Linked DNA regions of Homo sapiens. The protein of the gene in region 4 purifies or fractionates together with the protein of the main gene of each other region. This does not show direct contact. Each region holds a gene or a part of one and is shown on either strand. Other genes may lie near its edges. The genes, in order: SDAD1, ZNF777, CCDC137, RBM34, NVL, PRKRA and RRP8.

Region 1 (3,500 bases), on a different chromosome or scaffold from region 4:
ATTTTTAAGTGATATATGTGGTTCATATTATATTTCTATTGAACAGTACTGGTCTAAAGGGGAGAACAGAGAAAATCAGGAACTTAAAAGTTTATGTTTATAATGAAGAGATCTTGAAGAAAATACAGGGCAAAGGGACACACATAGAAATTCTGATTAATATCAGGTTCCAAATGACAAGAAAATTGGAGAACAAGAAAAAACATTCTTGAACCAACAAGTGCATATGTCCAATGAAATCTTAATTTACTCTCAAAAAGATTCTTCAATCTTTGAGAGTTATTTTATGACTCGAGGTGCTTGAAAGGAACAAAGCTGGGCTTTCCCTTCATGCCAGAAAAGGCATGCTAAAAAACAAAGGAAGTAGGGGTGGGGGGAGCCCTAACTAAAATATAACAAGCTCACAGAAACCTTATAATGAAACAAGGCCTACCAACAGGGTAATTAATACTTCCTCAACCCTGAAATGTTAGTTAAGGGCCAGTGAAGGACAGACTAATGGATTTAAGTCAATCCTATTATAATTTTAGGAGAATGTGGCAAAATTTAGAGTACTTAAAATCCTAAGTGGCACCTTTCCTTTCACCTCAGTTTCAACAGCTTCTATTAAAAATGCCGTCATTATTTAAATGATGTTGTTGAACACAGTTTAGAACTAGAAAGAGTCAACAGGGAGAGCTAAATGGTACCTTAATTCAGTGAATACTGACTTGGAACCCACAGACACAGCACTGCCCTAGAGGGCTGGCCGTTACATTCAGTGCTGGCAGGCTGATCCTTGGCTAGCTATTTAGGAACACTGATTCACAATATGAGACTGTTTAACCCAGAGCTGATATCCTGGCAATTCTTCAGAATGATATTTAGATACACTGCTACACCACAAGGAGAGAAAGATACAAAAGCATAAACTTGTTTTATCACAATGAATAACTGAAATAAATGAGCTGCCTAAGTAGCATGGGATTACCATTCAAAGGCCATGAATGGATAAAATGTAATCCCAAAGCCTGTAAACATCAGGGCTTTCAAAAGGGCACATACAGGAAGGATCATGCCAACACACTATTTATTTTGCATTGCTTTTCTGAAACTGTTTCTGAGATATCACCACACAAAATTATTGGGTTTTGAAAAGTACCCACGCCTGGGGCCAGGCGCGGTAGTAGCTCACGCCTGTAATCCCAGCACTTTGGGAGACCGAGGCAGGCAGATCACGAGGTCAGGAGATCAAGACCATCCTGGCTAACACGGTGAAACTCCGTCTCTACTAAAAATACAAAAAAATTAGCCAGGCGTGGTGGCGGGCACCTGTAGTCCCAGCTACTTGGGAGGTGGAGGCAGGAGAATGCCGTGAACCCGGGAGGCAGAGCTTGCAGTGAGCTGAGATTGCGCCACTGCACTCCAGCCTGGGTGACAGAGCGAGACTCTGTCTCAAAAAAAAAAAAAAGAGAAAAGTACCCACACCTATAATCCTAGCGCTATGGGAGGCTGAGGTGGACAGACTGCTTGAGTCCAGCAGTTTGAAACCAGACTGGGCAACATGGCAAAACCCCATCTCTACAAAAAATACAAAAATTAGCCGGGTGTGGTGGCAGACGCCTGTAGTCCCAGCTACTTGGAGGGCTGAGGTGGGAGGATCACTTGTAGGGAGACCCCCTGAATCTATTGCTACAGAATAAAAGATGAAATGCTCCTCATTATTGTAAATACAAAATTGCATGCAAGATTGTGTAAAAACAATGCCAGGTTGGGCTGCCAGAATGAGCCAACAGCACATGATGTGCTTCCCCCTGCAGAGAGCCTATGAACGGACGTGCAGTCAGGGAGGTTTCACATCACCAAGATTCCTATCCCAGAAAAGCAGATGTTCATAGCTCTGGGAATGGAATGTGACCCTTGTGGAGAGCCTATAAATGGATGCATGAGGGGCGCCTGTCCATATGGATAAGATAGGGTTATAAACGCCCTTATCTTGCCACGGCTCTTGTAGGTCTCTTCAAGAGTAAGGCATACTACCTTCTGAGAATTTGTGGTCTAACCAGTTGTCTAGCTTCACGTCCTGTTTCTATTGATTGTTTACAACCAGTTTTTGCTGCAACTGTTACTGCTGATTAATATCTTGCTAAACGTAGGTTATGGATAGACTGTGTTTCTGTTTTAAGGCTCTGTTAGAAATTGCTGATGCACACACTATATTGTAAATTCTTATCTCTGTATACTGTACTTCTGCATACCAATGTTATGTTAAAGAATTACTTCATCCCCATGTGACCATCTCACCTCATAATCAAACGACCCTAAATCCCTCACTAACCTACGCCCACTCTCACTAAACTTAATAATAAATGGTGGTATATCCAGTGCATTGGCAGCATCGCAGGACCAGAAGGCGGTGACCCCCCTGGACCCAACTTTCACTATCTTGTGTGTGTCTTTTATTTCTCCACCTGCCTTTCCACTTGGGAACAAAGAAAGAGCCCCGTTGCATTGCGGGCTGCTGGCCAGATCCCGCAATAATCACTGGAGCCTGGGAGGTCGAGGCTGCAGTGAGCCATGAGGCTGCAGTGAGTTGTGACTGCACCACTGCACTCCAGCCTGGATAGCAGAGTGAGACCCTGTCTCAGAAAACCAGGCATAAAATTGGCACTAAAAAGTTATTCAATTAATTTTGATATTATATTTCACAGATCAAATGTCAGAGAATTTTAGCATGGGAAGGAACCTCATGGATGATCTAGCTTGCATTCCTTTACTTATACTGGAGGAAAATGGATTCCCCTCTGGTCCCACAGCTGAGTCTCAATCAAGTCAGGTCTGGGATTTACATACCCTGAATCCTTCTCACCTCTCCATGCTCTCCAGCAATGCTCCCATTAATGGGAACTCTCCAACAATGCTCTCCAACAATGCTCCCAAGACACACACAATAATGCCCAGTCTTCAGAAGGCGCAAGTCCGTCTCAAATGTAAAGCTGTCTTGGAATTACAGTGCTGTTCTTGCCACCCAAGCTTCAAGTGGAACTCACCTGTTTTTCTCGGAAGGAACGCTTATTTTTTGACCGGACATTCTGGCTATACCGCATCATCATAAAGTTCTTCTGTTTTTTCTTCTCTTTATTTGTCGAACTGGAAAATGGATTTGTTTTGGTTTTCTTCCTCACAAATTCTTTTCGGTCTGTCTTTCCAGCCTACCAGAACAAAAAGTTTGATATTTCTTCTTCAACAACATACTTTAGGAGTCATCTAATCAACATTAATGTCTCCTCTGTGTCAGAAGCTCTACTAGGTGCCAAGGGCACAGAATGGACAGGACACAGTCTTTGCTCCTTGGGACCAAGAAATGGCCATACAGTATTATAACAGAGCAAGGGGAGCTCGGTGGAAGAAAAGTCATAATTTAGCCTGGTGAGGTCAGGGGAACTTCCTAGAAAGGGAGACAGGTAGACTGTTTTTTTTTTGTTTTTTTTTTTTTTGCAGGATGAAGGCATTCATGGTAA
Region 2 (3,500 bases), on a different chromosome or scaffold from region 4:
ACTGTGCACATGGATCTCCCCGGGATCTTACTGAATGCAGAAGCTATTTAGTAGGTCTAAGGTGGGGTCTGAGCAAGTTACCTGGTAGCACCATTGCTGCTGGTCCACAGACCATGCTTTAGAGCTGCAAGAATTATATCCTGAAGGGGAGGAAAAGGATCCGACAAGACAGGCCCCTCACTCTTTGGGGCCAGGACAGTGGCCAGACTTCTAGAAAAGTCCTAGGTGAAGGCCCAGAGCCAGGAGTTTGGGCCTTGGGATTGGCCAGCCGTGGGCCTGTCACTGCCTTCCAGCGGGTCTGAGCCGAGTTATTGTGTGGTTTCAGGTCCCTGTCACATTTGATGATGTTGCTGTGCACTTCTCGGAGCAGGAGTGGGGAAACCTGTCTGAGTGGCAGAAGGAGCTCTACAAGAACGTGATGAGGGGCAACTACGAGTCCCTGGTTTCCATGGGTAAGGAGAAGCCTTCGCTCGCTGGGGGCTGCCTGGACGCCAGCTCAAAGTGCATTCATAAACTTAGGGAGTTCTGAACCCCAGCAGAGCCAATAGTTGCAAGCAAGGAGAACAGAGTTGTAGAGATCACAACAAATTAAAGCAAACGCCCTCATATACCCACACACATCAGTGCGGCCCAGGCCAGAATGGCTTGTAAATTGAGACCCCACTCTCAGAGAAGCTGCTGGGGCAAGGAGGAGGAGAAAGACCTAGACATCAGTGGTCTCTCCGTCATCATATTTTTCCCCATGGGGACCCCTTTTTAAATAAATTAGTTTGTCCAGCAAACTATTATTAAGGAAGGAAAAAAGAATGAAAGGAAAGTGTGCTGAGTGTCTCCTGTGTACCAGCCACATTTGAGGTGCTGTACAAGTATCATCTCCTTGGACCTGCACAGCCAAGATGTTGCGGAGGCTAAGACAGGTGTTCACACTCCTGTTCGATGATTCAGGTGCCTGAACACTGAGGCTGTGATCAGGGAGGTTAAATGCTTATTTCATGGAGATCTGCCTTACCCCGAAGTCTGTAGATTCTTGTGATTTTAATTAAGAATATTTAACGATGAAAACCTGGAAAAATATACTTTACTTACATATATATATGTGTGTGTGTATATATATCTGTTTCTCTGATATGGAGAACTTTTTGGGTATATACAAAAAAACGTTATCTTAAACATTTAAATGTGTTGTCACATAGAAACTTTGATTCCAGCTAGAATTGATAATTTTATACATACCTTTCCATAGGATACATTCCCTTCCTTTTAAAATTCTTTTTTCTTTTTTTAATTGTGTTTTTTAATTGTGAAAATTCAACAATTTAAATGATTTATATAATTAAGAGCAACCACCACCCATTCACCAGTACCACTCCCCAGAGGTAACCACCATGAACACTTTGGCCTGTGTTCTCTCTCATCTTTTTTTGCATGTGCAGATATAAGCATGATACATGCACTGAGGCACATGCAGTTTGGGGTTTGCACAGAGGGGCCCGTTTACTTATTTTACCTAATGTAGGGGGATAGAGAGTGTTCCATGTCAGCACACGTAGGACTCCTTGGAAAGACAGTGCAGTGTTCCACGTGAACCATTAGGGCTTTTGACCTGTCTGCTGTTGCTGAAGAGTAGGTTGACTGTTACAAAGTGTTATGATAAACATTTCTGTGTATTTGTGCACTTCTGTGTGTTACAGTAGGACAGATACTAAGAAGTGGGATTGCCAAGTAAACAGGATGCACATTTATAGTTTTATGGCTACTGCCTGGTGCCCTCCAGAAGGCTGAGCCAGTTGATATTTCTGCAAGGGTGTGTGAAAATGCCACTTCATACCCTGGCCTGAGCTGATGTTCTTCTATTTTAAATATTAGCCTTTTTTATAGGTGAAAAATGATACCTTATTTATTTATTTATTTACTTTTTTTTTTTTTTTTTGAGACAGAGTCTCGCTCTGTTGCCCAGGCTGGAGTGCAGTGGCACGATCTGGGCTCACTGCAAGCTCCGCCTCCCAGGTTCATGCCATTCTCCTACCTCAGCCTCCCGAGTAGCTGGGACTACAGGCACCTTCCACTGCTCCTGGCTAATTTTTTTTTGTATTTTTAGTAGAGACAGGGTTTTACCGTGTCAGCCAGGATGGTCTTGATTTCCTGACCTTGTGATCCAGCCACCTCGGCCTCCCAAAGTGCTGGGATTACAGGCGTGAGCCACACGCCCAGCCTACTTCATTTATTTAAATATGTATTCTTTGATGATTAGTGAACTTGTGCATCTTTTTTTGTTTGTTTGTTTGTTTGTTTGTTTTTGAGACGGAGTCTCGCTCTGTTGCCCAGGCTAGAGTGCAGTGGCGCGATCTCGGCTCACTGCACGCTCCGCCTCCCGGGTTCACACTATTCTCCTGCCTCAGCCTCCCGAGTAGCTGGGACTACAGGTGCCCACCACCGTGCCCAGCTAATTTTTTGTATTTTTAGTAGAGACGGGGTTTCACCATGTTAGCCAGGATGGTCTCGATCTCCTGACCTTGTGATCCGCCCGCCTCGGCCTCCCAAAGTGCTGGGATTACAGGCGTGAGCCACTGTGCCCAGTGAACTTGTGCATCTTTTTATATATTTATTGGCCATTCATATTTCTTCTATGAATTACCTATTTATAGCTTTGCAATTTTACTAGTTATAGAAGTTCTTTATGTATAACTATGGATATTAACCCTTTGCCATATGTCAAACATGTATATATATGTATAATATTTCCTCCAAGTTTCTTCATCTTTTAACTTTATTTCCAAAGAACTGCAGACTTATTTTATGTAAGAAAATCTATCGATATTTTATGGCTTTTAGATTTTTATCAGGATTAGTTTTTTGTTTTTTTCTTTTTTTGAGACGGAGTTTCACTCTTGTTGCCCAGGCTGGAGTGCAGTGTGTGATCTTGGCTCACTGCAACCTCTGCCTCCCAGGTTCAAGTGATTCTCCTGCCTCAGCCTCCCGAGTAGCTGGGATTACAGGCATCCGCCACCACGCCTGGCTAATTTTTTGCATTTTTAGTAGAGATGGGGTTTCACCATGTTGACCAGGCTGGTCCCGAACTCCTGACCTCAGGTGATGCGTCTGCCTCAGCCTCCCAATGTGCTGGGATTACAGGTGTGAGCCACTGCACCCGGCCAGGATTAGTTTTTTACCTTACAAAATTTCAAATATCTTCTGCCTTTATCATGAAAACCTGGGCAGGTTTTGACTACCTCTGAGCAACACGATCCCTCTACCCCCCGCCACACACACACACCCACACCCCCACACCCACAGTGGGCTCTTGGGAAAAGAAGGGGAGACTTGGCGGTTTTCCATTGTGGTCTCCAGTCGAGGAGCTGCTCCTGGAATCACGTGCCCACAGATGATACCTTAACAACATCCAGTGCAACCTCATCCCAGAGCATATTTTTTTCCCTTTCTTCTGCCTAGACTATGCAATTTCCAAACCAGACCTCATGTCACAGATGGAGCGCGGGGAG
Region 3 (2,332 bases), on a different chromosome or scaffold from region 4:
AAAAATTATTTGGGTGTGTTGGTGAGCACCTGTTGTCCCAAGTACTTGGGAGGCTGAGGTGGGAGGATTGCCTGAGCCCAACAACTTGCTGCAGTGTGCTTATGCCACTGCACCCCAGCCTGGGCAACAAAGAGGCCCTAAAAACCACCAGGGGTTTCCCTTCCAGCAGCTAAAACCTGAGAATCATGGATGCAGTGGAGAGCATGAGCGCTTTCCCAGCCCTGTGGGATCCCTTTGCTTAGCCATACACGGGCCGATCTGACACCCAAAACCAAAGGCATTGAGCGAGTGGGAGTGCCACCCGCTGCCGTCCCAGCCCTTTCCCAGGGAAAGGCCACCCCCTTCCAGCTGCTGCTTGTGATCTGGGGCTGAGTTCTGGCTGCTGCAAAAACAACATCCCAACGCGAGGGCTGGGGCCGCCAGGTCCATCACAAGGTGGGAAACATGCCCATAAGAGGAAAACAGCCCTGACTTTAAATATATATTCTCCAATTTAAAACTTTTAACTAAAAAGTAAACTTTAATGTCGAAAGTGCAAACTTGGGGAAGGCAGAAAACATCACACACAAGGCTGTCACTTCACACTTGGAAGGTTGCACAGCGGCCGGGCAGAGGCGCTCCTCACTTGCCAGACGGGGTGGCGGCCAGGCAGAGGTGCTCCTCACTTTCCACACGGTGTGGGGGCCGGGCAGAGGTGCTTCTCAGTTCCCAGATGGTGCTGGGCTGTCGGACTCCATTGCTGGATGTGTGACTTGGGTTTAAGCTTCTCCCTTCTGCTCTCATCTGGAAATGCTGACAGCCTGGGCATTTCCTCCTTTGGCACTGGAGACTGAAGCCTGGCAAGGCCCTGCCCTCAGCAGGAACTCCCCCTGGGCCCCACTCTGTGACCTTGAGCCCAAGACAGGATTTTTCCTTTACCTTCTTCCAGCCACTTTGGGCCTCCCGGCTCTCTCAGAGCCCTGTTAGGTAGGTGACAACTCTGTTCCCACTGTTTTTTTTTTCTTCGTGTATTTTTAGTAGAGATGCAGTTTCACCATGTTGGCCAGGCTGGTTCGAACTCCTGACCTCAGGTGATCCACTCGCCTCAGCTGCCCAAAGTGCTGGCATTACAGGTGTGAGCCACCGCGCCCGGCCCCCGGTTCCCACCTTCTTAAGTGTATGTGTTGTCATCATGTTTCACCCCAACCAAACCTTGGGTGGGCAGCCTCTGTAGGGGACCACTCACAGCTGGCCTGTAGTCACGGTCCCCTGCAGAGCCCTGTCCCGATGCGTCGTCCCTGCCCGTGGCCTGCTCTGCCTGATGTGCACTGTACGCTCGGCTCTGCTGACTCCCGGGGGCCTCCGTCACACACTGAGCCAGCCTCATCAGCTGTCTCGGTATTTGGTGTTCAGGGACAGGGATCCAGCCCTTCCTAAGGTCCACCTGGGCTGAGACTCAGAATGGACGTTCAAAACAAAGAGATGGAGCTGTGAGTGACACCGGGCCCCACGGGCCGTCTGTCAACCAGGCCTTGGCCCTAGTCCATCGGGCACTCACCCCCTGCAAGATGTGGACCCACTAGTGCCCAACGTGTGAACAAGTAGCTGGAGGCCTCACCCCACACTGCTGGCATGGCCTGCCTCTCTCCTACCCAGGTGTAGCAGCTCCTGGTGCCAGTTGCCCCAGAGCGTGGCCAGGCCCCGGGTGTCTCTCCATCACAGCTGCGGCTCTGGCTTCTTCCGGGAAGTGAGGTGGGGTCGCTCCCCGTGCAGCTGCTGCTGCCGCTGCTTCAACGCTCTGTAGGCCTGCACGGCCCGCTCTCTCTCCTCCTCCACAATCCGCTGGCGGGCCAGGGAGGCGGTCAGAGGCTGGGACACACCACCGGGGCTCAGAAGCATCCGCAGCATCTGCGATCTCCTGCCAGGCTGAGGGAGAGAGGGGAGGGTGAGGCACAGGCTGGGAAAGGAGGGGATGCAACAGAAAGCCTCACAGCTTCAACAGCTCTCCCGCCAGCGAGAACACTGCACTCTCAGGCCACACACCAGACAGCGCACACGTTGGCTGAGGGTTTTTTTTTTTCTTGACACAGGATCTCGCTATGTTGTCCAGGCTGGTATCAACTCCTGGGCTCAAGCAATCCGCCTGCCTTGGCCTCCCAATGTGCTGGGATTACAGGTGTGACCCACCGTGTCCAGCCTGTCCAAGGCTTCTGTTCCCTGGCAGCACTGGGGGACAAACTCAAGTTGTCCCCGTGCCCCACTTACCTGGTCCTTGCTTACGCTCCTCTGGGGCCTGGCAGTCAGCTCTGGGGGCTGCAGGACAACCTCACCAAACTTCACCGTGTCTGGAGGA
Region 4 (3,500 bases):
ATTCATATTAGGATGATTTATGTAATAATTTACAATGAAGTTATATCCATGACTTACTATTGAATGCTTATTCAACACAGGAAGAACAAAGTTATTAACTTCTCTGAACTTTTACCATATACAAACTCACCTTCTTATTACATGTAACAGGCAAATTCCCAACAAACACAGTTCTCTCATTCTTTAATCTCTCTTCTTCTTGGTTGATTTGAATTTTCTTTCTTTGACTGACAACTGTGTCTTCTGTGTCATCAAGTATTTTTCTATCTGCTACTTTAACACCAGGTTGAGAATTTTTCCTTTTCTGCCCTTGTTTCTGGTGAATTTCTTCTTCTAAATCAGCACTCGCTAGAGCGCTTTCCCTTTTTAAGGCAAAAAATAAAATAAGCAGTAAGAGTCATGCCAGTTAGGTCTAGTATTTGACAAAGCACAGCCCTACCCTCCCGACTAGAAATATTTCCCAATGTCTTCTGAATTTTCCTAGATTTACTACTCACAAATATATCAAAATTTTTAGAGCAGCGCTATCTAGAAACTGACTAGTATCTTTAGAAAAAAAATGATTTAACTCAAGATTTAGAAAAAGTTAAGCTCTTTTTTTTTTTCTTTGAGACAGGGTCTTGCTCTGTCACCCAGGCTGGAGTGTAGCAGCGTAATCACAGCTCACTGCAGCCTCAACCTCCCAGGCTCAGGCAATCCTCCCACCTCAGCCTCCCAAGTAACTGGGACCACAGGCGCATGCCCCCACACGTGGCTTTTTTTTTTTTTTTTTGAGACGGAGTTTTGCTCTGTCACCCAGGCTGGAGTGCAATAGTGCAATTTCGGCTCACTGCAACTTCTGCCTCTCGGGTTCAAGCGATTTTCCTGCCACAGCCTCCCAAGTAGCTGGGATTACAGGTGGCTGCCATCATGCCAGGCTAATTTTTGTATTTTTAGTAAAGACGGGGTTTCACCATGTTGGCCAGGCTAGTCTTGAACTCCTGACCTCAAGTTATCTGCCCACCTTGGCCTCCCAAAGTGCTGGGACTAAAGGTGTGAGCCACCATGTCCAGTCTTTTATACATACATATACATATATATATATATATATATATATATATATATATATATATATATACATATATACTTTTTTTTTTTGAGACAGAGTCTAGCTCTGTCTCCCAGACTGGAGTATAGTGGCGCAATCTCGGCTCACTGCAACCTCCGCCTCTCTGGTTCACAACGATTCTTTTGCCTCAGCCTCCCAAGTAGCTGGGATTACAGGCACCTGCCACCAAGCCCAGCTAATTTTTTTTTTTTAGCAGAGACGAGGTTTCACTGTGTTGGCCAGGCTGGTCTCGAACTCCTGACCTCTTGCTCCGCCCGCCTCAGCCTCCCAAAGTGTTGTGATTACAGGCATGAGCCACCGCGCCCAGTCTCCTTTTATATTTTTTTGTAGAGACAGGGTTTTGCTATGTTGCCCAGGCTGGTCTTGAACTCCTAAGCTCAAGCCATTCGCCCACCTCAGCCTCCCAAAGTGCTAGGGTTACAGGCGTGAACCACTGCACCTGGCAAGAATAAGTGAAGCTCAATTTTTGAACACGTTAAATCTGCCATGCAACAGCAGCAGCAAGTTCATCTATACAAAAGCTGATTCACTTAAAGCTCTTGGAGATTTAGTTTACACTCTATCAATGCCTGATTTCATTTTCTACTCTAGACCTTTAGGGGCACTATCACACTCCCTGAGAGTCTAAAAAGGTTAATATGGCAGCAGAGTACTTACTCTGTACAAGCAATATGGCTGATAGGAAAAACCAGATTCCCTACTTCTAATACTTCTGTAATATTTAAAGGACTCTTACCAAAAGTAAATTGTGAAACGGTAAATACAATATAAAGTATTGCTGGATATGGATAAGCAAGGTCTGAGCATCAATCTGAAAGGAGAACTAAAGGATATTAAGGAGTGAGGGAAGAGAAGAGCTAATAAGAATCATAAAAATGACTCACTCATCAGCAAATACTTACCGGGTTCCTACTCAGTTCTAGGCTCTGAGGATACAAAGATAAAGAAACAATCAAAGGCCTCCAACAGTGCAGTGAAGAGACAGACCAAGTTCACAATAAAATGGTAACAGCTATAATACATGGTATGCAAACATAAACGAGAAAGGCTTCTCAGAGGAGGAAATCAGTGTCTGGCACATAGTCCAATAAAAGCTGACTGCTATTACTCCTCCCCTGAGGACAGGGTCCATGTCTAGTGTTTTGCTCACTACAGTATATAAAGTACCTAGCAGGTGTGAAAGGAAACGAGACAGTACAGTAAGGTGGGAACCAGGTCAGGAGAGACCTTCAGTGTTACACGAAAGTGCTTAGATTTTATCCTACTGAAGATGAGGAGACACTGAAGACTTTGAGAGCATCTAAAAAAGATCATCTGGGCAGAAGAGTGGAAGATAATTAGAAAGAGGATAAGGTTGGAGAAGGGAGACCAGTAAGGAGATGGTTACAACAGTGTGTATCTGAGAAGACTGACCAGACTGACCAGAGCAGGGAAGGAGGTGAAGACGAAAAGGCAGATTAAAGAGATAATTAAAAAACAGCATCATCAGGACTCGGCAACTGATTAGCTAAGCAAGGAGAGGAAAGAAGACAGGATGACTCTCGGGCCACTAACTTAGGCAACTAGAAGGCTAGTGGTAGCGCTCATGCCAAGGAACAGGACTGATGAGAATGATGAGCTCCCAGTGGAGCATTCTTACCTGGTGGTACATATGGAATAAAGAGGTGCAAATGCCAGGAGGCAAACAAACATACATGTCTGGAGATCAGGAGAGAGATCACGGTGGGCACAAGAGATACTGCCCCCAACAAAGGGTGACAAAGGGTCACAAGAACATGACCAAGAATGAGACCCCTGAGGGAAATGCACATTTAAAGAGTAGTCAGAGGAAAAGATACCACAGTAACACTAAGAAAGAATTGGCAAGAGGACAATCAGAAGAGATTTCTCTCAGAGAATCCGGTAGCTTCAACAAGAAAAGCAGCCACGTGAAAGGTAACAGAGGACTCATAAGACAAAAGCTGCACTGCCCATTACATATGAGAGGTCAGGGTGGCCTCAGTGGGCACTGCTTCAGTGGCACAGTCAGGACGGAGAATAAAACCCACCACCACCAGAATCCAAGTGCGTGGAAGGGTGAACAGATCAAGAGAAGGGAGAGAGTACAAGAACAGACTACTTTTCTTAAAAGCTAGACTGAAGGGAAGGACTGTGGGAATGGTAGCAAACAGAGACATGCAATTACATGGGTTTTTTTTTTTGGCGGTTAGGGGGAATGTCCTTTTTAAAGATTAGAATCGTGAGCACGTCTATATTAGCAGAAAGAGGGATAAGGGCCAGGCGCGGTGGCTCACGCCTGTAATCCCAGCACTTTGGGAGGCCAAGGCGGGTGGATCACCTGAGGTCAGGAGTTCAAGGCCAGCCTGGCCAACATGGTGAAACCCCATCTCTA
Region 5 (3,500 bases), about 11 Mb from region 4:
GATGCATTTTCACCTCCACATAGCCTGTAGTAACATCAGGAAATCTGACATTTCTGCCTTCATCCTTCCTATGTTTGTGTTGTTACAGTTATTAGTTTTTCTTCATATGTTTTGAAGTAAATTTGTTTGTTAACTTTCCCAATTTGGGGACACAGAGGGAGGAAATGAAACTCAAGTTTAACTAACAGAGACAATGCCCCCTCCGGCTTTTTGTTTTCTTTTTTTTCTTTTTTTTTTTTCCATACAGGGTTTCCCTCTTTCACCCAGGCTGGAGTACAGTGGCATGATCATGGCTCACTGTAGCCTTGACTTCCTGGGCTCAAGCAATCCTCTGACCTCAGCCTCCTGGATAGCTGGGACTACAGGTGCATGCTACCATCCCCAGCTAATTTTTTTAAAAAATTTTTGTAGTTTTAGGGTCTCGCCATATTGCCCAGTCTTGTCATGAACTCCTGAGCTTAAGTAGTCCCTCATGCCTCAGCATCCCAAAGTGCTGGGATTACAGTGAGCCACCACACCCGGCCCTTTTTTTTTCTCTATTATGTCCTTCCAATGTAGCAGTGATTCTCAGTGAAGAGAAACTGATCAGAGTCTCAGGCAGGGGTGGTGAGGGGCAGATGTAAATGCCTCTACCTCCCCTTAAATAGGATGTGCCTCACCCCCTAATTAGGAATCAAATCCATACGAGTCTTTATTTAAATGATGTGGCCAGGCACAGTGGCTCACGCCTGTAATCCCAGCACTTTGGAGGCTGAGGTGGGCAGATCACTTGAGGTCAGAAATTTGAGACCAACCTGGCCAACATGGTGAAACCTTGTCTCTACTAAAACTACAAAAATTAGCCGGGCATGGTAGTGCACACCTGTAATCGCAGCTACTAGGGAGGCTGAGACAGGAAAATTGCTTGAACCCAGCGGGTGGAGGTTGCAGTGAGCTGAGATCGTGTCACTGCACTCCAGGCTGGGCAACAGAGCGACACTCCATCTCAAAAAATAAAAATAAATAAAATTAAAAATAAAGAAATGGCCTTATGCTTAGGAGACTACTACTTGAGTAGTTTACTGCTTTAAGGGTGGGAGCAGTGGCTCACACCTGTAATCCTAGCCCTTTGGGAGGCCAAGGCAGGCAGATTGTTTGAGGCCAGGAGTTCAAGACCAGCTTGGGCAACATAGTAAGACCCCATCTCTACAAAAAAAATAATAATAATACAGCTTTAAGTGCTCAAATCTGAAAAGATTTTCGGTGAGTAACAGGTGATTTTGGTGGCGGAACTTGCCCTGGGCTAAATCTTTTGGATATACCAAGTAGGCTATCAGTCTGTGAAGGGGTTAGGGCTAAAGTTGAATGGTGTACATTTTGGATTTTCATGCCACTATAATTACAGTTTGAGAGACACTACACCACTACAGTCTATAGCTATCTGCTTGTGTTAGTTAATGGTGTTTCCACCAATGTTAGATTTCATAGTATGGGAAGGAATGAATACCCCAGCAGGTATGTGATTATTAAATAATGTTATAACCCTAACATTTAGCCAACAAAACACCAGATTCAGTTAAAAATTTAAGCTCTGTGGGTCTTTACTTTTATATAGTATGTGTCTGAGGCAGGAGAATCACTCATACCCAGGACGCAGAGGTTGCGGTGAGCCAAGATCACACCACTGCACTCCAGCCTCGGTGACAGAGCAAGACTCCATCTCAAAAAAAAAAAAGTTATATAGTATGGGGATTATCAACATTATATAATAAGTTTAATGTCCAGAGATGAGGTTTTTTAAAAAAATTTATTTTTCATTTTCATCTTTTCTTTCCAAGACTTGTGAATCATAGAAGTGATGTTTTTATCCCCAAACTCAAACTCTTTCTCATATAATCTCTAAGAACCCTGTTACAGCTGTAATGTAGTGAAACTCCAGTCAACATGAGTGTCTTTCATTGAACTCAGAACTGTGCTGACTCAGCATATTATTACATGAACTAATTAAATAAGTGAAGGCCTGTTTTGTATTTGTCATATTTTAAGTAACTTATGATGTGTTCATTCAGTTTTAACTTGAATCAGGTGCATTAAAGACTTTCCAGGGTTTGTATTTTTCCCTTCTGAACTTGGAGCCACAAGTGACTTTTTGGGGGGTTTTCTTGAGACAGGGTCTCACTCTGTCACCCAGGCTCACTATAGCCTTTGCCCCCCAGGCTCAAGCAATTCTGCCATCTCAGCCTCCCAAAGTGCTGGAATTACAGGCATGACCCACTGCGCCCAGCCCATAAATGACTTTTTAATAAGCTTACTTTAGACATTATGTAATACATGAATATGCTAGTCAGCACTTTAGCCCTTTATGCATTGTATTGTTTCCTCCATAATTTCCTTTCTTCTTGAGTTTAGTTTTTTTTTGTTTTTGTTTTTTAATTGGGACAGAGTCTCACTCTGTTACCCAGGCTGGAGTGCAGTGGTGCGATCTTGGCTCATTGCAACCGCCACCTCCCGGGCTCAAGTGATCCTCCCACCTAAGCCTCCCCAGTGCCTGGGACTACAGGTGCATGCCACCATGCCCAGCTAATTTTTTTGTAGTTTTGTAGATATGGCATTTCTCCATATTGCTGAGACTAGTCTCAAACTCCTGTTCAAGTGATCCACCCACCTCGGCCTCCCAAAGTGCTGGGATTATAGGCGTGAGCCACTGCACCTGGCCTAGAAATATCTTATATAAAAGCTAAGAGCTCTTTTCTATTGATTGATAATCAATTTATTTCTCATCTTTATTGGTCACTTTTTCTCCTGATTATTTAATATATGACTTATATGAAAACTGTTTTCCGGGTTTTTTTCTGGGATTTTGCAGTATCTAAGAATAAGTAGATAACTATTATTTTATTGTAGGGGCGCAGATCTCTCTGCTTTGGTACGAGAAGCTTCTATCTGTGCCCTGAGACAGGAAATGGCAAGACAGAAGAGTGGAAATGAAAAAGGTACAATTCTCTCCAGAATCTCTCAATTCTAATTATGATACTTAAAACCACTGTTGCCCTGGAAAATGACCATTTTCTAGTGTCTATTATCTATGATATTAAAGCTAACGTTTTTCTAATAAGACTGTTAGAAGCTGTTCTGAAATATTAGGTAACCTCTGTTGCTGACAATTATAATAATAGCAAAGTTATTTAGTACCTCTCTAATAAAGAGTACTGTCCCTATAGGCAAATGGATCCATTCGCTGTCTTCATCATGAGTCTGGGCTGCTTATCAATTCTGGAAAAACGTATTCTTTTGCTAAGGTGATATCTACTTGCCTGTTAAAATGCAGCCTAAATTGGAGAGCTTAGAAAATACACAAGAGAAGTGAAATTTGGAATAACTTTCCATATGTTGAGACTTTCCTTTCAAAATATAAAATCTGTGTATTGTGTTATGTGATGCTTTGGGGCCATCTCAAAAGCTTTGCACCATCCTTCACATTTGACAGTGTCTTTAATGTTATTATTTGAGTGCATATGGGG
Region 6 (3,500 bases), on a different chromosome or scaffold from region 4:
TCTCGGTTCACTGCAACCTCTGCCTCCCGGGTTCAAGTGATTCTCCCACCTGAGCCTCCCGAGTAGCTGGGATTACAGGTGCACGCCACCTTGTCTGGCTAATTTTTGTATTTTTAGTAGAGACAGGGTTTCACCGTGTTGGTCAGGCTGGTCTCAAACGCCTGACCTCAGGTGATCTGCCCGACTTGGCCTCCCAAAGTGCTGGGATTACAGGTGTGAGCCACCGCACCTGGCCTCCAGCCTCTTTTCTTTTTTTTTTTTGAGACAAGTCTAACTCTGTCACCCAGGCTGGAGAGCAGCGGCATGATCATGGCTCACTGCTGCCTCAACCTCAGAGGCTCAAGTCATTGTCCCCACCTCAGCCTCCCTAGTAGACTGGACTACAGGCATGTGCCACCACACCCAGCTAATTTTTCATCAGCCACCTTTTCTAACCATCTGTCTGCACTGACTTCCCAGGTTCTGCATCATTATTGGTTTACTGAGACAATGCACTTCACCCGTCCTTCAATCCCAAAGTAGCACAGAATATCAGGAGTTCTTTGAGCCCCTAAGTGCCCTACTTTCCCAGGGTCAGGGGACCCTGACAAGCAAGGTCCCCACATCTTTCTGTGGTTGGATAGGGATATAAAATTTCTCACACATGTTAAATCAAGATACTTTGGCCAGGCACGGTGGCTCACACCTGTAATCCCAGCACTTTGGGAGGCTGAGGTGTACAGATCACTTGAGGTCAGGAGTTTGAGACAAGCCTGGTCAACATGGTGAAACTCCCATCTCTACTAAAAAAAAAAAAACTTTGGGAGGCCGAGGTGGGTGGATCATGAGGTCAGGAGTTTGAGACCAGCCTGGCCAACATGGTGAAACCCCGTCTCTACTAAAAATGCAAAAATTAGGTGGGTGTGGTGGCACACAGCAGTAGTCCCAGCTACTCAGGAGGCTGAGGCAGGAGAATTGCTTGAACCTGGGAGGCAGAGGTTACAGTGAGCTGAGATCATGCCACCGCACTCCAACCAGGGCAACAGATCAAGACTCCATCTTGGGGAAAAAAAAAAAAATTAGCCAGGCTTGGTGGTGGATGCCTGTATTCCCAGCTTCTTGGGAGACTGAAGCAGGAGGATCGCTTGAACCCAGGAGGCAGAGGTTGCAGTGAGTTGAGATTGTGCCACTGTACTCCAGCCTGGGCAACAGAAACAATACTCCGTCTCAAAAAAAAAAAAAAAAAAAAAAAATCAAGACACCAAACACACACAACTAATTAGCTCTATAAATTGAATTAAAAGAAAATCCATACTGACTTGCTTTCCCATCTGTCCATATTTGTCTATCCAAATGATTAAGGGCTAGAGAAAATACAGATGATGATGGCTGAGATGGGATAAAACTATAAATTGACTTGGTTCCATTTACCTCCCAGAATCAGCATACAGTGACAAAGTAGAGAGAAAAGGTCTGGGCACCACAAACTTGTACTTGTGCTAGAAATGTAGGTGCCTTTTCATTTGCCCAGCAGGGCTAGTTTAACAGCCAGGGTATCTTCTGGGACTCTTCCCCAAATCTTGCTCTACCGCTGACTAGCTATGTGATCTTGGGCAAGTTTCTCAACCTTTCTGTGCCTTTCTTCCTTTACTTATAAATAAGGATAACAGAATTTGCTTCATAGAGTTAGTCTGAGGATTCAGTAAGTAGATACGTGTAATCTTAGAACAGTGTCTGGCACACAGTAAAACTCTATCTTTGCTATTGTTGTTTTTGTTATAACTGTATAGATGTTAGCTATTATTACTATCCACAAGAATGGGACATATCAATTATATATATTACTGGCCTAGTAATTATATATACTTAGAATCCCTGATCAATAAAATAAATTGTAATAGAAATTTTTATTCCTCAAACACATTTTTGTTCCTCAAACACATTTTTAAATAAACATGTCTTGGGAAAGCCAAAGAAAAAAAAATCATACCTATATCCAAATATGTTATATTAAAACCTTGTTCCTTGGCAATTTCACTAAGCAGCTGGATGTAATCTGTATTTGGAATACTAAGGAGGCTTCTTTTCAGTAAGTTGATCTTTTCACCAGGAGAATTCCTCAAGGAATGCCAAGTACATCCTAAAGAATGTCCTACTACATTTGTCTGAAAAACAGAGATGAAGATTTAGACTCTTGACTAGGACTGGGTTCCAACACCCGTACCAGTATCATTAAAAGTACTTATTAAGCACTCACATTTAATATGTTATAAAGCATGTTTAAATGGATAACATTTGGTTAATTTTCCAATTTAAACAAGACAACATTAAAAAGTACACATTTAACAATACTATATGTTTTTAAGAAGCACTTGCAATAATATACTGAAAGCATTTTGTATTTTGTATAGTACAAATGTTTCTCAGTCAAGTTTTCTGATGGTCACATTAAGAGGTACAAGATATCTGGAAGCACCATAAGTAAATCCACAAATAATTAAATCTGCCTAATGGAGCAATTTGCAGATTAAAATATAGAACAATTTTCATATCTTTGGTTTTTTTTGTATTAAATACCAATCACTATAACTGACAGCTATCAAACAGGAAAAAAAACAGAAAAAAAAACTAAAAAAAACATGAAATGTGCGCGTTGGGTTTGAGGAACAAGTCATTCAAATAAATGACAGGATGTCAAAAAGTTCTTATCAGACTTCTATCCCAGAACCCAACTGAGTATTTTTTTCCTTTTTCTTTCTGCTTTTCCTCTTTCCTTTATCCTCCCCTATATCCTTCCCTTTTCATCTCTGTCCTTAGAATGCCTTATATTTCCATATTAGTTTATGGTTCTCAAATTGCTTTCATATGCCATTAATAAAAACAACTACTTTCTGAAGTAAGTAGGGTTACTACTCTTAATATTGTTTTATTAATGAGCACGACAGAGGGGAGGCAATTTCCAAAAGATTTTAGAGATGGCATGATATGGAATTAAGTAATTTATTAGATTTACCAAATAAAAATTTACATTATAGAAACTTTAAAATACTGTTTTTAAATAAAGAACACTATTTACATGGTTAAAAATATACATGCACTAAGAACAAATATATAATGAAGAGTACAGTCTCTTTTCCTTACCACCCATTCCCTGAAGACCTCTGTTCTATTTCTTAGACATACTGTTAAACATTTTTCAGTATCTTCCCATAAATGTTCTATGCATATGCAAGCACACACAATCTTTTAAAGCAAATGATAACTTACTCCTCTACATCTTGTTCATTTTTCTTTTATCAGTGCACATATATGCACTGTATTTACCTTACGGATCTCCAACTGTGAGCTTTAGGTTGTTTCTAGTTTCTTGCTTTTACTAGCAATAAACACTCTTTTGCACTTGAATGAGTTTCTCTGTAGAATTATTTCTAGAAGTGGAACTGCTAAGTCAAAGAACATGTACACTTTTAATTTTGATAAATACTTCCAAACTGATTTCTGAACCAATTTATACTCCTACC
Region 7 (4,242 bases), on a different chromosome or scaffold from region 4:
AGAAGAAAGCCAGCACTGAGATACCAGGATGGGAAAGGGGAAGGAAGGGTTAGAGATTAGCATACGGAGGTTGGCCCTAGAGCACAAGCCAGATAACATAGGGGTTTACCTGGGCCATGTCACACACAGTGACCCTAGGGTCCAGAGAAGCCAAGTCAAAGCAATGCACAGGGTTCCGGATACTTGAAGCCAAGCGGCAATCCCCACAGCCGAAGTCAGCCACCACTAGGGATGCAGGCCTGAGAGTGGAAGGCAAGGGTCACATATTGGTCTGATCTGAGCCTATGACTGACCCACCACATGGCTTCTCACAGTCCCTGACCCCCATTCACCGCTGGCGAAGATCCCTGGCGATGCGGTCCACTGGCTGCAGTGGCCACTTCTTCACTTGGCTCTGGAAGCCGCGGTGGTAGAGAAGAAAAGCCTCAGGGTCTTCCTGGAAGAGACGCTGTGCAGCACTGCTGGGCCCTGAGTACAACTGTTCATTGAGGTAGCGAAATCGGGCCCCATCCAGCCGCTGTGCCATGCGGGCTCGCAAAGCCCCTGCCCGAGCCTCATGGCTGTCTGTCCTGGGAACAGGAGACACCTCTGTCTTCTCTGTGGGGGCCTCAGCTGGGGCCTGGTCTGGCACCTGAGGTGGCTGAAACTTGTTCTTACATCTTCTCTTGTTCTTTTGCCGGTTCCGCCACTGCTTGCGGCTTAATGTATGAGGGGGTTTAGGGGAAGTGGACCCAGGGCTTTGCTTTGGTGGATCATTTGTAGTACTACCCTTCCAGGCTTTGGGACCTACAGGGAGGGAGATGGGAAGGTGCACATGAGGCAAGATCTCTTACATTCGGAGTCACGGCAAGTCATCCCAGCCATACCTCTGTCTTTGAGATCGTGACTGTGGCCTGCAGAGAAGTACTTCTTATTGCCTGAGTACACCATTAGCCCCAATCCTAATGGCAGTGGATAATCACTCTTGTATGTAGAACCAGCTGACCCCCCGACACACACACACCAACACACACACATATACACATCCAATGGTACCTGTTTGGTCAACATTGTCCAGGTGCTGGGCTGAATTTATAGGGGCATGTTTCTGGCATTTCCTCTTTCTTTTCTCATCTTCAGCAGAGTCACTGCCAACAAGAGCCTGTTTGTGGCATTTCTTCTTCCTTTCTACTTCTTCCTCAGAGTCACTGCAAGGTGGGCCCTGTTTTTGACATTTCTTCTTCCCTTTCTTCCCTACTTCAGCAGAGGCACTGGCAAATGATGCCTTTTTGGGGCATTTCTTCTTCCTTTCCTCCTCCTCCTCCTCAGAGTCACTTATACATAGGCTGGGGGGATGCTGGGAAAGAGATGCTGCCTCTAGGGCCCGTAATGTGGCCAAGAGCTGGCGGCGCTTGGAGCCCTGGAGGAAAACAGGGGATGACAGTGGGCCTAAAGAGAATGGATGAGGCCTGGAGAACAAGAAGGGAGAGATGTGGACCTGATTCAGACTGGCAGAAGCATCTGAATTCTTCCCAGTCAAGCCTGCCAGAACCCAGAAGAACTTTTATGTCACCACCCCAACTTCTGGGAAGCTGGAGAGCAGAGAAACCACCTATCCCACTTTCTTCAATGTGTAAATGAGCTAATGGAGGTTTCCCCAAAGGAAAATGCAAAGGCCACAAGCAACAAGACCAAGGCCAGAGACCAGGAATTCCAACCCTTCACCTTGAGCTTTTGCCTAGAGCTGATACATTTCTGTAAGAGGTAAGGAGGCTTCTGAACACAGGAGACACATGATCACACACGTATATTAAATATTTAACATGTCTCTAGCTGCAGTGTAGAAAACAAACTGAAGGGGAGAAATTGCAGACAGAGAGGCCAGCGGCTTGGACAATGGTAATGGGGCTAGGGGATGAAAAAGGAGGAAACAAAGCAGGCCGATTCCATGTTGGAGGCAGACTGAAGGGTAAGAAAAGCCTGAGGAAGCAGGGCCCTCACATCTGCAGAGGCTCAAAGGAGAAGATGTATTGTCGGGAAGGCTGATTCTGTGTTGCAGTCCTACCAGGTAATCCTAGGCCAGGCACTTACCCTGATTCTAAGTTTCCCACACCCTCCTTTGAACAATGATACTGACAACTCTTACTGTCTCCAATCCATCCTCCACACTGTAACCGACGACCCTTTCAAAATACAAATCTGAAGAAATAATTCCATTGCTTAAAACCTTTCATTGGCTTCTATTCTCAATATACGCAAAACTTCTACCTCTTGAACTTGAACAGCATATATGCCCCTTTCATTTACTATGTATTTCAACCACAAGGACCACTTGTGTTTGTGACTCTGACAGAACATGCTCTCTTGTCCCAGGGCCCTTGTACGTACTTTTTCCTGTCTGAAGAACCCTCTTCGCTTCACCAACTTCTACTCAACAACTCTCTCTGACCCAACGTCAGTTTCTTTTGGAAGTTCTCGGATCTTCAGATCAGGACTCGCCCTTAACGGTGCCACAGGTGTCCCTCCCCGCAATACACACAGCGCTGGGATCCACCAATGTCCGCTTCGCGGCCTGAAACAGCTCCCATTGCTCCCGCGAGTCACTCACCTTGTTTTGCGAGGAGGCCGCAGGCGGAGGTCGTGAGATTACGGGCCCAAGGCCCGCGGCTACTGGGGCCGCCTCGGCCCACTCAGGCTCTTCGAACATGAGGGTCGGGAGGGCAGGGTCGCCGAGTCCCCGCTCTTCTCCACGTGCACAGCGCTCCTCTGGAAGTCGGAGCGCTCAGACCTGCCAGAACCGACCCGGAAACCAAAGCGTGACAGCCAGGGGTTGCTAGAGCGGCCGGCGCGGCGCAGCGAACCATCGAGTTTAGCCAGGCGCGGCTAGAAGGGCAGGGAGGCGGTGGGAGGGGAGGGACGGAGGCCCGCGCTGCCCAAGAGCGCCACGGGCGGGGCGGGGCCGGCGGCGGGCTGCGGGCGCGGCCGGACGGGAGTTCCCCGGAGAAGGATCCTGCAGCCCGAGTCCCGGTGAGTGCGAGAGGACCCGCGCCCCCTGTCACCCCTCACTTCTCCTGAGTCCCAAGTAAGGAACGGAGCCAACCCTGGGGAGGACCCCCGGTCCCCTCTCCCAGAGTATACGGAGCCTGAACCTCCCCACTTCCCCCAACTCTGTTCGCGGATAGGGTCTAGTTGCCTGCTCTCGGACATCCGTTCAGCAGACACTACCTCTTCGTCACCCCCTGCCCACCCTGACCCGCCTTTACCTCGCGTCTAGAGGACACAGCCAGGGATCATCCCGCAGCCCCGAACTCCTTCACAGACCCCCACTAGCCGGGGACGCAGCTCAGGCCCCCTACCCCCAACACAAACACTTCTCTCCTGTAGAGGATAAAGCTTGGGGTTCATCCTCCTTCCCTGGATCACTCCACAGTCCTCAGGCTTCCCCAATCCAGGGGACTCGGCGCCGGGACGCTGCTATGGACGACATTTTCACTCAGTGCCGGGAGGGCAACGCAGTCGCCGTTCGCCTGTGGCTGGACAACACGGAGAACGACCTCAACCAGGGGTGAGCTGAAACGGTTGGTGGATGAGAGGAAGGCTAGAGATCTCCTGGCTACGTGGAGTGGAGTGCTCATGTCTGGTGGTGGCGGCTGCCTTTGCTAGCCAGTGTAATGAGTGCTAAGCATAGCCTGTGGGGGGCAGAGGGTTTTCACAGAGGACGCAGTTTGAGCTGAATCTTGACTGCAGAATAAGAGTTTCACAGGCAGAGGCTACAGAGAGCTTTCCAGCCTCAGTAGACTGCATGGCCAAAGGCTAGGGGGCAAGGCACAGAGCAGAGAGAACAGGAAATTGTCTGGAGTTCCATATGGCTGGAGGATAGATGATCTCTGTGGGTCGGAGCATTGGGTACAAGAGGAAAAGAACAGGACATAAGACTGTAGAGGTCTCCAAGGATCAGCCAGATCATGCAAGCATATTTAGGCTATAAGAAGGTCTTTATTTTAAAAGCAAGGTTTTAAAGCTGTATAGTGACATAATGAGATTGTCCATTTTTCAGTATCGTCTTGGATGCTTTGTGAAGAGCAGGTGGAAAGGAGGCAATTGCCTAGTTCATCGTAGAAGTAATGATGTCTTGGACTAGAATTAGGGTGAGTGAAAAAGAGAAGTGATCAAATTCCAGAAGTCTTTAGGACGAAGAATTGTGGAACTTGGTGTGGGGAGTGAGTAAGGGCAAAGATGAGGACCAGGGTTCTGGCTTGGGAA

What was found.
Region 1: the proteins of RBM34 (region 4) and SDAD1 purify together in Homo sapiens (affinity purification with mass spectrometry; 2 studies listed by BioGRID and IntAct, with this or other methods). This does not show direct contact.
Region 2: the proteins of RBM34 (region 4) and ZNF777 purify together in Homo sapiens (affinity purification with mass spectrometry; 2 studies listed by BioGRID and IntAct, with this or other methods). This does not show direct contact.
Region 3: the proteins of RBM34 (region 4) and CCDC137 purify together in Homo sapiens (co-immunoprecipitation; 3 studies listed by BioGRID and IntAct, with this or other methods). This does not show direct contact.
Region 5: the proteins of RBM34 (region 4) and NVL purify together in Homo sapiens (affinity purification with mass spectrometry; 2 studies listed by BioGRID and IntAct, with this or other methods). This does not show direct contact.
Region 6: the proteins of RBM34 (region 4) and PRKRA purify together in Homo sapiens (affinity purification with mass spectrometry; 3 studies listed by BioGRID and IntAct, with this or other methods). This does not show direct contact.
Region 7: the proteins of RBM34 (region 4) and RRP8 purify together in Homo sapiens (co-immunoprecipitation; 3 studies listed by BioGRID and IntAct, with this or other methods). This does not show direct contact.

The regions. Positions count from the first base shown.
Region 1 is NC_000004.12:75,952,946-75,956,445, forward strand, and holds part of SDAD1 (protein SDA1 homolog), read right to left. Parts: intron 3,192-3,500; coding exon 3,030-3,191; intron 1-3,029.
Region 2 is NC_000007.14:149,451,063-149,454,562, reverse strand, and holds part of ZNF777 (zinc finger protein 777), read left to right. Parts: intron 1-325; coding exon 326-452; intron 453-3,450; coding exon 3,451-3,500. UniProt on the Homo sapiens protein: May be involved in transcriptional repression. Inhibits cell proliferation through CDKN1A/p21 induction by down-regulation of NIBAN1/FAM129A at low cell density.
Region 3 is NC_000017.11:81,672,068-81,674,399, reverse strand, and holds the end of CCDC137 (coiled-coil domain-containing protein 137), read right to left. Parts: intron 2,325-2,332; coding exon 2,245-2,324; intron 1,906-2,244; coding exon 1,696-1,905; 3' UTR 501-1,695; downstream 1-500.
Region 4 is NC_000001.11:235,154,751-235,158,250, forward strand, and holds part of RBM34 (RNA-binding protein 34), read right to left. Parts: exon of another isoform or gene 1,916-3,500; coding exon of another isoform or gene 1,845-1,915; intron 363-1,844; coding exon 131-362; intron 1-130.
Region 5 is NC_000001.11:224,232,673-224,236,172, reverse strand, and holds part of NVL (nuclear valosin-containing protein-like), read left to right. Parts: intron 1-2,883; coding exon 2,884-2,972; intron 2,973-3,200; coding exon of another isoform or gene 3,201-3,232; exon of another isoform or gene 3,233-3,500. UniProt on the Homo sapiens protein: Participates in the assembly of the telomerase holoenzyme and effecting of telomerase activity via its interaction with TERT. Involved in both early and late stages of the pre-rRNA processing pathways.
Region 6 is NC_000002.12:178,434,176-178,437,675, forward strand, and holds part of PRKRA (interferon-inducible double-stranded RNA-dependent protein kinase activator A), read right to left. Parts: intron 2,145-3,500; coding exon 1,970-2,144; intron 1-1,969. UniProt on the Homo sapiens protein: Activates EIF2AK2/PKR in the absence of double-stranded RNA (dsRNA), leading to phosphorylation of EIF2S1/EFI2-alpha and inhibition of translation and induction of apoptosis.
Region 7 is NC_000011.10:6,600,817-6,605,058, forward strand, and holds the start of RRP8 (ribosomal RNA-processing protein 8), read right to left. Parts: upstream 2,801-4,242; 5' UTR 2,687-2,800; coding exon 2,588-2,686; intron 1,400-2,587; coding exon 1,036-1,399; intron 787-1,035; coding exon 333-786; intron 240-332; coding exon 110-239; intron 1-109. Other genes in the region: scaffold protein ILK, read left to right, coding at 3,456-3,544.